2 separate regions of the Homo sapiens genome follow, and region 2 is linked to region 1. The links come from fine-mapping of genetic effects on gene expression. A gene starts in region 1. The other region holds a variant in brackets. All regions are shown on one strand. Distances are from middle to middle. Region 1 holds the start of MPC1 (mitochondrial pyruvate carrier 1). Region 2 has its middle 46 kb from the start of PRR18.

Region 1 (2,500 bases):
TATATAAAAACATCTTAAATTGTACTTCCTCCCAAGCTTAAAGTCCTTAGAATGAGAAAACCGAAAGGCGAACCCAAGGCCAGCACATTTTATTTCCGCTGTCCCAGAAGCGCGCTGGGCGCACCCGAAGCTCCGCTCCAACAGCGCCGCGCCGCGCTCTCAGCAGCGCCTCCCGCTGGCGTCTCCCCACCCCACACCCAGGTCGCCGCCTCTGGCACACCTGGACGGCCGCAGGTGACCGGCGACCCACTCCGAGGATCTGGTAGAAACCGGCCAGGAAACCACTCCCGCCCGGAGGAGCGAGCCACTGTCAACTGGCCCGGAGGGACGTGCCCACTGCCAACCATGGGAGAGGAACGAGCCTCTGTCACCCCTGCCGGGTCACCCTGCCCTGAGGGGCGCCCACTGTCACCCCTGCCGGGAGAGGCGTCCCCATGGTCACCCTGTCCTGAGGAGCGCCGTCGCTTTCGTCCCTCCAGGTCCCCACTGCCACTCTGGCCGGGAAGGGCGTCCACTGTTATGCCTACCAGGAGAGGCGTCCCCAGTGTCACCTTGGCCAGGAGGGACGCCCACCGTCACCCACTCCCTGAAGGGGACTCAATGTCACCCCTGCCTTGAGGGGCGCCCACTGTCACCCTGCCGGGAGAGGACACCCACTGTCACCCCCGCCCTGAGGAGCGCCCACTGTCACCCTGCCGGGAGAGGACACCCACTGTCACCCCCGCCCTGAGGGGCGCCCACTGTCACCCCCGCCCTGAAAGGCGCCCACTGTCACCGGCTCTCTACGCCGTCCGCTTCGGGGTGTGGCGGTCCGGGAGGGATCCGGGTGGGGCCCCCCTGACAAGCGCACCCTCTCGCCTGGGCCCCGGCCCACCCGCTGCCCGGGGCCACCGCGTCCTCGCGGCCGCCCTCGTCGCGGACTGCACGGGTCGCAGCCTCCCGGGAGCCCCTCCGGGTTGCGGGGTTCGGCCTGCGGCGCTCGTCACCTCATGAGGTAGTCCCGGAAATCCTTGCTTCGGACATAGTCCGCCGCTTTCCGCACCAACGCGCCCGCCATGGCTGTGCCGACACCAGACCCCGAGTGGTCCCTGCCTCTGCTGCCGCTTCCCAGAGCCAATGACACCCCGGCCAACCCCCCGGCAGCCGACGGCGAGCCAGCCCGAAGGCCCGCCTCACGACACCCGGCCACGCCTTACGGCCGCGCCGCGCCGCCCGGCTCTCGGCCAATGACAGGGCGCAGGGCCAGAGATGGTGGCGCGGACTGGCTGGCTCGTGCCGCACGCCTCCTTCCCGCCCTCGGTGGCGCACGGGGGCGGGGCCCGCTGCCGTAAAACGGCTGGGGCTGGGCCGGGGCTGGCAGGCGGTTGCTAGGCTCCAGCGGCTCCCGGCCAGCGGGGACGTGGAGGTGACATTTCTCTGACCCACAGGACTGTGGGCGCCCTGCCGAGCGTCGCGCGGTCTTGGGGCGACCTGCAGTGGGGCCCCTGCGGCGCAGCGCGCGGTGGGACTGGCCGGGTTCCCGCGCCGCCCAGGGCCTGTGTCTGCGCCGGTTCCTGGCAAGGGCACCTTGGCCGGGCGGCCCGCGTCCCCTGCGCTTCCCACACCCACGTGGGCGGACCCGGCCCGCAAGCTGGGCCAGCCTGCGGTTTCCGGGCACTGGGGAGTGCGCAGAGCCCCGGGCCAGCGACCGCAGCCGGGGCCCCTGGCTTCTCCCGAGCACTTTCCCCCGGACCGGTCCCTCCAGGGTGGCGGGCGGCACCCAGGGCCGGCGCTCCTCACCAACGCGCTGCAGCTACGGGCTCAGGAGGGAGCCGCAGCGTCGGAGGAGGAAAGCATTTAAGAATAGCACAAAGCCTTAGGCTCGAGGAAGCGTGACTGCTTACGTGTTGAAAATAAAGGTTCTGTAAGTCCCACCGCGGGTGCATATTGAAAAGAAAGGGATCATTAGCACGCGACCCTCGCCTAGGAGTATATAAACCGCAGCACGACTTTCGGATCACAAAGGCAGAGAAAAGAACACATTGAAGGCTTTTGCTCACTTTTCCAAGTTGTTTCGTTTCGTTTTGTTTCTAATGTGGACGATCATTTAAAATGCCTCTGGTGGCCGGGCGCGGTGACTGACGCCTGTAATCACAGCACTTTGGGAGGCCGAGGCGGGCGGATCACCTGAGGTCAGGAATTCGAGACCAGCCTGGGCAATACGGTTAAACCCCCTCTCTACTAAAAATAAAAAAATTAGCTGGGCGTGGTGGCATGTGCTTGTAGTCCCAGCTACTTGGGAGGCTGAGACAGAAGAATCGCTTGAACCCGGGAGGCGGAAGTTGCAATGAGCCAAGATTGCGCCATTGCATTCCAGCCTGGGCAACAGAGCAAGACCCTGTCTCCAAAAAAAACAAATAAATATAACAAAATTCCTCTGGTAGCCGGGTGCGGTGGCTCACGCCTGTAATCTCAGCACTTTGGGAGGCTGAGGCAGGTGGATCACTTGAAGTCAAGAGTT
Region 2 (3,018 bases), 120 kb before region 1:
CCGAGTGCCAGGCTCCATGCTGGGTTCTATTTTCTTTAGAACATCTATTTCATTATTACTTAACAATTATCTGCTTTACACATTATAAGCCAAACTCTGTTCTATACTCCATGTGGGTTTAACTGAATATATAGTCACCACAGCCTTGCAAAGTAGATATTTAATTACGCAGGTGAACAAACTGAGGCTTGTTAAAAAACTAGAACAAGGTCTCACTGTGATTCCAACCAGACTTGTCTTACCATTATTACAAATGATGCTTTCTCTCATGATAGACATCTATAATTTACCTAGTTGGAATTGCTGCACACATTTTGTTTGGTGTTTTGATTTTTTAATTATATTGTGTATATATTTCCATGTAGCACATAATAATTTACATAATTATGGTAACTTTGTTACACCCAATTACCTACTTCAATTCAGCTAATTTCCTCTTGGTAAACATTGATTGAGTGTTTATGTGCCAGATTCTATCAAATGCCAAGGAAATAAAAATAACTGAGATAAGGTTCCTAACCCCAAACTTTCATCTAGCCAGGAGACATACATTATGTGAAAAGATAAGCATAACGCAGTGTGATACATGCATTTCTCAATGGTTGCACATTTGAGTTATTGCTAACTTGGCTGTTATCAATAGCGTTAGTACTGCCAGGCACGGTGGTTCACGCCTGTAATCCCAGCACTTTGGGAGGACGAAGCGGGCTGATCACGAGATCAGGAGATCGAGACCATCCTGGCTAACATGGTGAAACCCCGTCTCTACTAAAAATACAAAAAAAATTAGCCAGGCGTGGTGGCGGGCGCCTGTAGTCCCAGCTGTTCGGGGGGCTGAGGCAGGAGAACGGTGTGAACCCGGGAGGCAGAGCTTGCAGTGAGCTGAGATCACACCATTGAACTCCAGCCTGGGTGACAGAGCGAGACTCCATCTCAAAAAAAAAAAAAAAATAGCTTTAGTACAAATATTTTCACCATACCCCTGAATTATAGTTTTCAAAAAACACTAAGAAGCCAAAGCATAGGGACAATGGCCCTGCTTCCATTATGACAGCCAGACTGCTTTCCAGGATGCCTGCACCAAGCTCGTTTCTCAGTATCCAGTGCGTGGAAAGAGGATGGTCACACCTGCCCTTTACGTCACGAAGAAGAGGTTATGAGGCTTCACATAATCTATAAATATACGTGGTTACTGCTGATGTGTAAAG[C/T]GTAAGTATCCTTTGACTACTTGTTTAGCAAAGTGTGGATTATATGTTCATGCCTATACATTCATATCAATCCGTGTGCATTTTGGATGTAAACCTGTATCATCTTTTTACATTTATTGTTTTCAGATTTCATTGTCTCTTACAAAACAAAGTTCCTTTTCATTGTGTATAAAAGTTTTTAATAATGTTATTTTGTTAAGCTTAACTATGATGTCTCTGATTATATTATTTTATCTCCAATAAGCAAAAATGAACATCTCCACCGTTGAGATGAACGAATTTTTTCATTCAAAAAGCCCTGCTTTTCGCGATTGGCCTTGCTTGTGATTAGTGCATAGTGTGTGCAGAGTGTAAATGTGAGAGCGGGCCCTGATTCTTCAGCACTTCCTCTCCCACATTTCATTATTCCAGGCTTATGATATCTTATACTTTTAGAACTTTGGATTTCTTTCTGGAGTTGATTCCCATGCCCTGAGTGTAACATTTCCGTATAGATAATTATTATTGTATAATACATTGTTTTTTTTTTTTTTTTTGAGACGGAGTCTTGCTCTGTCACCCAGGCTGGAGTGCAGTGGCATGATCTCAGTTCACTGCAACCTCTGCCTCCTGGGTTCAAGTGATTCTTCTGCCTCAGCCTCCTAAGAAGCTGGGACTACAGGCGTACGCCACCATTCCCATCTAATTTTTGTGTTTTTACTAGAGATGGGGTTTCACCATATCAGCCAGGCTGGTCTCAAACTCCTGACCTCATGATCCACCTGCCTCGGCCTCCTAAAGTGCTGGGATTACAGGCGTGAGCCACCGCTCACGGCCTATTGTGTAATACATTCTAAACCTGTCGCCAGTTCCCTTTCATTACCTCATTTGACAGAGTAAGTGGTCAAACCTCTGAGGAGAGCTGAGGAAGGCCAAGGCCTGAGGTCCTCGAGGACCTGGGAGAGCTTCAGGTCTGCAGAACCAACCCAGGAACTGCCGGGCCGCTCCAGGGGCCCACTTCTACTGCCACGAGCATCTTAGGTTCTCTTGCTGACAGCCCCTGATGCCTGCCTGCCTGCCTGCGTGTGTTGCTGCCACCTCTGCATTTCTCCAGCCCTCTGTCTGTCTGGTGGCCTGGTCTAGTGGCCCCAGCTGTCTAGGTCCCCACTGCTGTGGCTGTGATCCTGCGTTGTGCAGGAGGCGCAGCTGCCATCCCCGCAGCCACAGCAAGCCTGCCAACTCAGGCTCAAGCAGAAGGGGAGCAGCGCCCCCATTCTTCCTGCTGGATGACACCCCAGCTCTTGTCTCTTCCTGGAATGGAGGTGGGAGGGCTTGGGGAAGATTCCACCATGATAGGACCCCATCTCCAAACTAAGGGGCAGCTCTTTCAGTTACCGTCCTCTACAAGAATTTGCTTTAAGTTCCAAGAAACAAAGGTGGAATGTATTTTAACACCATCACACATCGAAAGTGTTCTTTCCACTGCTGATGGCTCCATTCTTCAAGTCAAGGGCATATCTTTAGGGTGTTCTTGGGGGTATCGGGGTCCTGCTACCAGAGACCTCTTCACAGGTGTCCTCAGAAGTCCTGGGTACCCTCATCCCTCCTTATCTCAGAGACCTCTGAGGGGATGCAGATGAGGCCCCTGGTAAGCCTGCCCAGGGCCTGGCTAGATTTCCACCCCAGGGAAACCTGCTCTTGAGGACTCTGCAACATCCCAGTGACCACCAGCAGCCCATCTCTGTTTCACAGTGGTGACAATCTCCAGGCCCACACTAGCAAGCCTGGGTCTTCTCCCTCTCCCGTTGCCCTGACCTGAGACCCTTGCGGC

Evidence for each region. PIP is the estimated chance that this variant, and not a neighbour inherited with it, causes the effect.
Region 2: its variant is fine-mapped to the expression of MPC1 in whole blood (INTERVAL, PIP 0.97).

The regions. Positions count from the first base shown.
Region 1 is chr6:166,381,820-166,384,319 of GRCh38, forward strand. MPC1 (mitochondrial pyruvate carrier 1) reads right to left here and starts at 1,121. Exons shown (of 5, transcript NM_016098.4): 1 at 987-1,121. The coding sequence starts at 1,057. It overlaps MPC1-DT (MPC1 divergent transcript), which reads left to right and starts at 1,359. Exons shown (of 1, transcript NR_189630.1): 1 at 1,359-2,500. RefSeq lists an enhancer at 264-443 and silencers at 804-903, 1,054-1,793.
Region 2 is chr6:166,260,895-166,263,912 of GRCh38, forward strand. No RefSeq gene overlaps it. Among named protein-coding and RNA genes, the nearest start is that of PRR18, 46 kb to the right of the region's middle. The variant C/T (reference allele first, on the strand shown) is at 1,209.